Linked DNA regions of Homo sapiens. The protein of the gene in region 1 interacts with the protein of each later gene in a pairwise test. Each region holds a gene or a part of one and is shown in the gene's direction. Other genes may lie near its edges.

What was found.
Region 2: the proteins of LUC7L3 (region 1) and ITSN2 interact in a two-hybrid assay, tested with the Homo sapiens proteins (one large-scale study listed by BioGRID).

Annotation. Positions count from the first base shown.
Region 1 is NC_000017.11:50,726,103-50,729,924, forward strand, and holds part of LUC7L3 (luc7-like protein 3), read left to right. Parts: intron 1-3,822. UniProt on the Homo sapiens protein: Binds cAMP regulatory element DNA sequence. May play a role in RNA splicing.
Region 2 is NC_000002.12:24,353,973-24,357,794, reverse strand, and holds part of ITSN2 (intersectin-2), read left to right. Parts: intron 1-3,822.

The DNA of each region.
Region 1 (3,822 bases):
AATTATCCCTTGGTTCTTGTGTATTTTCATCATTGTTTATTGCAATACCGTATAAACTTGTTGTTTTGCTTTTTGTTGTTGTTGTTTTTGAGACAGTCTTGCTCTGTCGCCCAGGCTGGAGTGCAGTGGTGCCATCTCGGCTCACTGCAACCTCTGCTTCCCAGGTTCAAGCAGTTCTCATACCTCAGCCTCCCAGGTAGCTGGGATTACAGCCGTGTACCACCATGTCTGGCTAAGTTTTGTATTTTTAGTAGAGATGGGGTTTTGTCATGTTGGCCAGGCTGGGCTCGAACTCCTGGCCTTAAGTGATCCGCCCACCTTGGCCTCCCAAAGTGCTGGGATTAGAGGTGTAAGCCACAGCGCCTGGCCTATGTACAATACCATGACCTTTGAATAACGCCCTGAGACCCATACGAAGTGCAGCTAGTGACATTGGAAGTGCTCCGAAGAAGCAGAAAAGTCATGACAGTACAAGAAGTTAAATTGCTTGATATGTACGATAGACTGAGATCTGCACCTGGGGTTGCTGGCATTTGAGACAATTCATCTTTTGTATACAGATGACCTAAACTTAGGGTATTGATAAATACAGCACTGTAAATGTGTTTTCACATTTTTTTCTCTAGCTTACTTATAGTTATTTTTTTCCCTAAACATTCTACAGTGCACATCTCTAGCTTACTTTATTGTAAGAATACAGTATATAGCCAGGCACGGTGGCTTACGTCTTTAATCCCAGCACTTTGGGAGGCCGAGGTGGGCGGTCACTTGAGGTCAGGAGTTGGAGACCAGCCTGGCTAACATGGTGAAACCCTGTCTCTACTAAAAATACAAAAATTAGCCAGGCGTTGTGGCCGGTGCTTGTAATCCCAGCTACTCAGGAGGCTGAGGCAGGAGAATTTCTTGAACCCGGGAGGCGGAGGTTGCAGTGAGCCGAGATCATGCCACCGCACTCCAGCCTGGCTGACAGAGCGAGACTTTGTCTCAAAAAAAAAAGAATACAGTATATAATACAAATAATATACAAAATACGTGTTAACCAACTGTTAGTGTTATTGTAAGGCTTCCAGTCAGTGGTAGGCTTTTGATAGTTAGGTTTTAGGGGAGTTAGGGTCAGTAACTCTCTTAGTTGTTATAAAGGAATACCTGAGGTTGGATAATTATAAAGAAAAGAGGTTTATTTAGTTCAGTTCCCCAGACTGTACAAGAAGCATTGTAGCTGGTACCTATCTGGTGAGGGTCCCAGACTGCTTCCACTCATGGCAGAAGGGGAGCTAGCATGCGCAAAGATCACATGGCTAGAGTGCCAGGCTCTGTTCAACAACCAATTTTCCAGTCAACTAAGAATGGGAATTCACTCCCACAAGAATGTTTTTTTTGGGACCAAAGAAACCACATCCAAACCATAGCAGTGCCCCAGCCCCCCGAGTTCAAAGGTCAGCTGTATAGTGTACACAGGAAAGGAGTGCATAACCCAGATTGGGATGGATACTCAGGAAAGGCCTGTCAGACAAAGTGGTCTTTAAATACATTTACCTAAAGGATTGGCAGGAATTAGCCTGAGGGAGAGGAGAGAGAAGACACCTTACCAGCCTGAAGGAAGAGCTGGAGAAAAATCGGTGAATTTGGCAAATTTTAAATAGTATTGTAGTGTGTATGTTTTTGTTGGGTGGGGTAGTGTAGATAGGTAGGCAAGAACTTGGTTTTAAATAGTTTTTATAGGCCGGGCGTGGTGGCTCACGCCAGTAATCCCAATACTTTGGAAGGCAGAGATGGTGGATCACGAGGTCAGGAGATCGAGACCATCCTGGCTAACATGGTGAAACCCCATCTCTACTAAAAATACAAAAAAAAAAAAAAATTAGCTGGGCGTGGTGTGGTGGCAGGCGCCTGTAGCCCCAGCTACTCGAGAGGCTGAGACGGGAGAATGGCGTGAACCCGGGAGGCGGAGCTTGCAGTGAGCCGAGATCGCGCCACTGCACTCCAGCATGGGCGACAGAGCGAGATCTGTCTCAAAAAAAAAAAAAAAAAAGTTTTTATAAGCCTTGTTGAAAGTTTAGATTTTATTACATTGGGAAATAACTGAAGGCTTCTAAGCAGAAGAGAGATGTTTACTAACTGGCTGCTGTGGAAGATTGATTGAAATTTTACTAGAAGTTTGTGTAGGCAATAAATAGTGAATCATACCTGCAAAGGTATACGTAATAAAATTAAAGGCATGGAAATGAATGTGTGGTCGTGGTATAACTGAAACATAAAGCTATATGTTATCAGGGACATAATTTTTGTTATAAATTCTTTTATTAAAAATTATTTCTTTGGGGGTTTATCTTTAACACAGTGAATTGAACTCTTAGGTAAAAAAAAATATTTATAGACTGTCATAATCAGAATTAAACTATTAATATTGAGGCAGAAGTGACAAAAGACTACAGCGTGTAGGGTTGGTTTTTGTTTTTGTTTTTTTGGAGACAGAGTCTTGATCTGTTGTCTAGGCCGGAGTGCAGTGGCGCGATCTCAGCTCACTGCAAACCTCCGCTTCCCAGGTTCAAGCGATGCTCGTGCCTCAGTCTCCCGAGTAGCTGGAACTACAGGCGTGTGCCTCCATGCTTGGCTAATTTTTGTATTTTTAGTAGAGACGGCGTTTCGCCATTTTGGCCAGGCAGGTCTCAAACTCCTGGCTTCAAGTGATCTGCCTGCCTCGGCCTCCCAAAGTGCTAGGATTGCAGGTGTGAGCCACTGCAGCTGGCTTGTGTTCCTTTTTTTTAACCAATAAAATTTCCAGGTATTCCTGGATTTTAAATTAATATTTGTATGTGTATGGCATTTGAGGTATTCCAGTAATATGTCCTGTTTCAGAATACAGTAAGTCTGCATTTAACGTCGTTAATGGGTTCTTGGAAACTATGACTTCAGTTGAAATGACATATAACAAAAGTTTTACCATAGACTAGTTAATATAAAGAAGAGTTAGGTTTCTGTGGCACATTCTGGTTACAGAAACATAACTAAAAAGACCCAAAACATTTCTGATATCAAACATTGAGATAAATTTGAGGTATACATACATTTAAGAAAGATGAATAAAAGCGAGGTAATTACCCAGTTTTTGGTGAATCAGTGAGTGATGGCAATTTTAGTGGTGGTGAGTTAAGTCAAGGAATAAATGTTTACAACTTGAACATTGTCAGAAGCACCTCCTACCTCCATTCAGTTCCAACACAATAATAAAGATGGTAAACTCACCACTTTTGGACTATGCTGTTTATTTTCATGCATTTGTATGATTATCATATGCTTTACAGACTTTTATTTTACAATAATTTCATTGTAATATACAATATATTCATTCCTTTCCAGCCTCCTTATTCCAGTTCAGGGTGGTGGGTGGCCAGAGCTGATCCCGGCTGCCCAGGATGCAAGGCAGGAACTAACCCTGGACAAGATCCCCTCCCATCACAGGGCATACTCACACACCCACACTCACCCAGACTGGGACTTAGGCATGCCAGTTCACCTACCGTGCACAGCTTTGGGATGTGGAAGGAAACCAGAGTACTGGGAGAAAACCCATACAGACATGGGGAGAACTTGCAGACTCCTACACAGTTAGCCCCAGCTGGGAATAATTTTTTTTCCCCTCATCACATTATTCAAGGACTTACTGTATATAGTAATTAGGATTGGCTATTTAGATTTTTAAAATTTAAGTCCCTGTCAGTTTTACTGTTTCCAACATGAGTTGTGTTGCCAGTGTTTAGATAATCAGAAGTATATATTGAATATAAATACATTATATATATATATATATATATATATATA
Region 2 (3,822 bases), on another chromosome or scaffold:
GTTCCAGAAATGATTCAGAATAAACGAGTTACATTACCAAAAATGTGATATATTTATTACCATCTAACGGTGCATTTTCTTTTTCTTTTTTTGGATTCAAGTTTTTTTAGTACCTTTTTTATTTATGGAAAAAATTTGTGAAAAAACTGTTTTTGAAGAAAGGCAGACTTTCTTGTGTGCCGATTTTTTTTTATTTCTTACAAAAAAAACAGGATATATGTGCAGAACGTACAGGTTTGTTACATAGGTATACGTGCACCGTGGTGGTTTGCTGCACCTATTCACCCGTCCTCTAAGTCCCCTTCCCTCATTGCCCCCCCACAACAGGTCCTGGTGTGTGTTGTTCCCCTCTGTGTCCATGTGTTCTCAATGTTCAACTCCCACTTATGAGTGAGAACATAGGGTGTTTGATTTTCTGTTCCTGTGTTAGTTTGCTGAGGATGATGGCTTCCAGTTTCGTCCATGTCCCTGCAAAGGACATGATCTCATTCCTTTTTATGGCTGCATAGTATTCCATGGTGTATGTATATCACATTTTCTTTATCCAGTCTATCATTGACGGGCATTTGGGTTGGTTTGGTGTCTTTGCTATTGTAAATAGTGCTGTAGTAAACATACGTGTGCATGTGTCTTTAGAGTAGAATGATTTCTATTCCTTTGGGTATATACCCATTAATGAGATTGCTGGGTCAAATGATATTTCTGGTTCTAGATCCTTGAGGAATTGCCATACTATCTTCCACTATGGTTGAACCAATTTACATTCCCAGCAACAGTGTAAAAGCGTTCCATTTCGCCACAGACTTGCCAGCATCTATTGTTTTCCTGACTTTTTAATAATCACCATTCTGACTGGCATGAAATGGTATCTCATTGTGTTTTTTTTTTTTTGAGACGGAGTCTCACTCTTGTTGCCCAGTCTGGAGTGCAATGGCGCGATCCCAACTCACTGCAACCTCCGCCTCCTGGGTTCAAGTGATTCTTCTGCCTCAGCCTCCTGAGTAGCTGGGATTACAGACGCCTGCCACCACGCCCTGCCAATTTTTGTCTTTTTAGTAGAGACATGTTGGCCAGGCTGGTCTAGAACTCCCAACCTCAGATGAGCCACCCGCCTTGGCCTCCCAAAGTGCTGGGATTACAGGCTTGAGCCACTGCACCCGGCCATCATTGTGGTTTTGATTTGCAGTTCTCTGATGATCAGTGATGTTGAGCCTTTTTTCATGTTTGTTGGCCTCAAAAATGTCTTCTTTTGAGAAGTGTCTATTCATATCCTTTGCCCACTTTTTGGTGGGGTTTTTTTTTTCTTGTAGATATGTTTAAGTTCCTTGTAAATTCTGGATATTAGACCTTTGTCAGATGGATAGATTGCAAAAATTTTCTCCCGTTCTGTGGGTTGCCTGTTCACTCTGATGATAGTTTCTTTTTTTCTTTCTTTTTTTTTTTTTTTTTGAGACAGGGTCTTGCTCTGTCTCCCAGGCTGGAGTGCCGTGGTGCCATCTTGGCTCACCACAATCTCTGCCTACCAGGTTCACCTCCCAAGTAGCTGGGATTATAGGCATGTGCCACCACGTCCAGCTATTTTTTTTTTTTTTGAGATGGAGTCTCGCTCTTGTCCCCCAGGCTGGAGTGCAATGGTGCGATCTTGGCTCACTGCAACCTCAGCCTCCGGGGTTCAAGTGTGATTCTCCTGCCTCAGCCTCCTGAGTAGCTGGGATTACAGGCGCCTGCCACCATGCCCAGCTAATTTTTGTATTTTTAGTAGAGATGGGGTTTCACCATGTCCAGGCTGGTCTCAAATTCCTGACCTCAGGTGATCCACCCGCCTCGGCCTCCCAAAGTGCTGGGATTACAGATGTGAGCCACTATGCCTGGCCTTTTTGTAATTTTTTAAAAATAGAGACAGGGTTTCACCATGCAGGCCAGGCTGGTCTGGAATTCCTGACCTCAGGTGATCCTCCCACCTCGGCCTCCTATAGTGCTGGGATTATAGGCATGAGCCACTGCACCCAGCCTGATGATAGTTTCTTTTGCTGTGCAGAAGCTCTTTAGTTTAATTAGATCCTATTTGTCAATTTTGGCTTTTGTTGCAATTGCTTTTGGCATTTTTGTCATGAAGTCTTTGCCCATGCCTATGTCCTGAATGGTATTGCCTAGGTTTTCTTCTAGGGTTTTATGGTTTTGGATTTTATATTTAAGTCTTTAATTCATCTCAAGTTAATTTTTGTATAAGGTGTAAGGAAGTGGTCCAGTTTCAGTTTTCTGCATATGGCTAGCCAATTTTCCCAGCACCATTTACAGAATAGGAGATCCTTTCCCCATTGCTTGTTTTTGTCTTGTTTGTTGAAGATCAGATGGTTGTAGATGTGTGGTGTTATTTCTGAGGTCTCTGTTCTGCTCCATTGGCTTATATGTCTGTTTTGGTACCAGTGCCATGCTGTTTTGGTTACTGTGTGCTGATTTTAAAGACAGGATTCCAAGTGTGAAGTAGAAAAATAAGAATGTTTATAATTAATTCTGTAAGTGGATAGATCTAAAGTTGAAGGTACATCAGAAATACTGTATTTTTTACTTGAGTTCATTTTTTGGATTTTGTAACATCCTACAGCTGTGGAGCGCAGAAACTAATGTTAGAGTTCTCTTGGGTAAAGTGTGAATATAGGTATTCTTGAGGAGGAGGAACTGAACTGGTCTTAAAGGATATGAGAGCAAAGAGGAAGTGGGAGAGGAAGGGAGGAAACTGAACAGAATTAGGACAGTTAATAGATCAAGAAATATGTATTTTCACAGCTCCAAGAGGGCAGCATATTTCATTTGCAGAATGTATAGTATTGTTTCAAAAGGTTCACTTAAAATATAATTTCATAGATACATCAGGACATTAAATGATTTATTTACTTGTGGAGCTATTCAGCAGTGGATTATGGCAGACATTTAGTGGATTAGGGGACTATTACCAGACGGTAAACATTTGTTTTATTTAACTGTTTCATATTTTTAAGATCATTTTCTTCACGAATGCGTATTCATTTTAGATAAAGTATATGTGATTTTAATAAAAATTTCATTTATTTTCATCATAACCATAGAGGATAAGAGTACAGCCTCTGAAGTTAGACCTGCTTCCAGCTCTGACACCAAATAACTGTATAATCTTGGGCAAGTTACTTTAATTCTCTTCAGCTTCTGTTTCCTTATGTGTGAAATGGGGAAATATTAGCTAGTTCCTAGTGTTGTTATATGTAATATAAAGTGCTTAGCACAGTGACTTCTGCTTAGTGTAAGTGCCTAATGTTACCTGTTGTTTTAACTTGGTTCAGTGAGAAATTTCAAACTAACCTAACATAGTTCTTATTTTGGTCTTTGTTTTACACCGTGACTGGAAAGGAAATTAGCCTTTTGCCCTTAATTTTTAATCTTACCATCGGAATAATCTATATAAGAAGGCTGAAAAGTAGGGTAGTACAGACCCACAATCCCACTGGGCTCAATTTCCAAATTTGTTTTTAACATTCTCAAGGGGCCTATGAAAATGTTTAGTGAAGCCTTCTTTAAAGTGTGGTTTATCTTGGGCCAGCCCCACAGTTGGTGATGGCCTTGGGCCTGAGACCCTTCCAGGATGGGCCTGGTGATGGTATCAGTGATAATGAGGTAACCATGATAACATGTAACAACTTGTAGTGTAGGGCTTGGCACTTAGTAAATATTGATGATTGATGGCTGCTGTTTTAATTTTCATAATAAATATGCACATTTATATCAAAATGTAAGTTTTAAATTGTAAGAACATAAGCAGTTTCCATGTTATTATGTGGTCTAACTGAA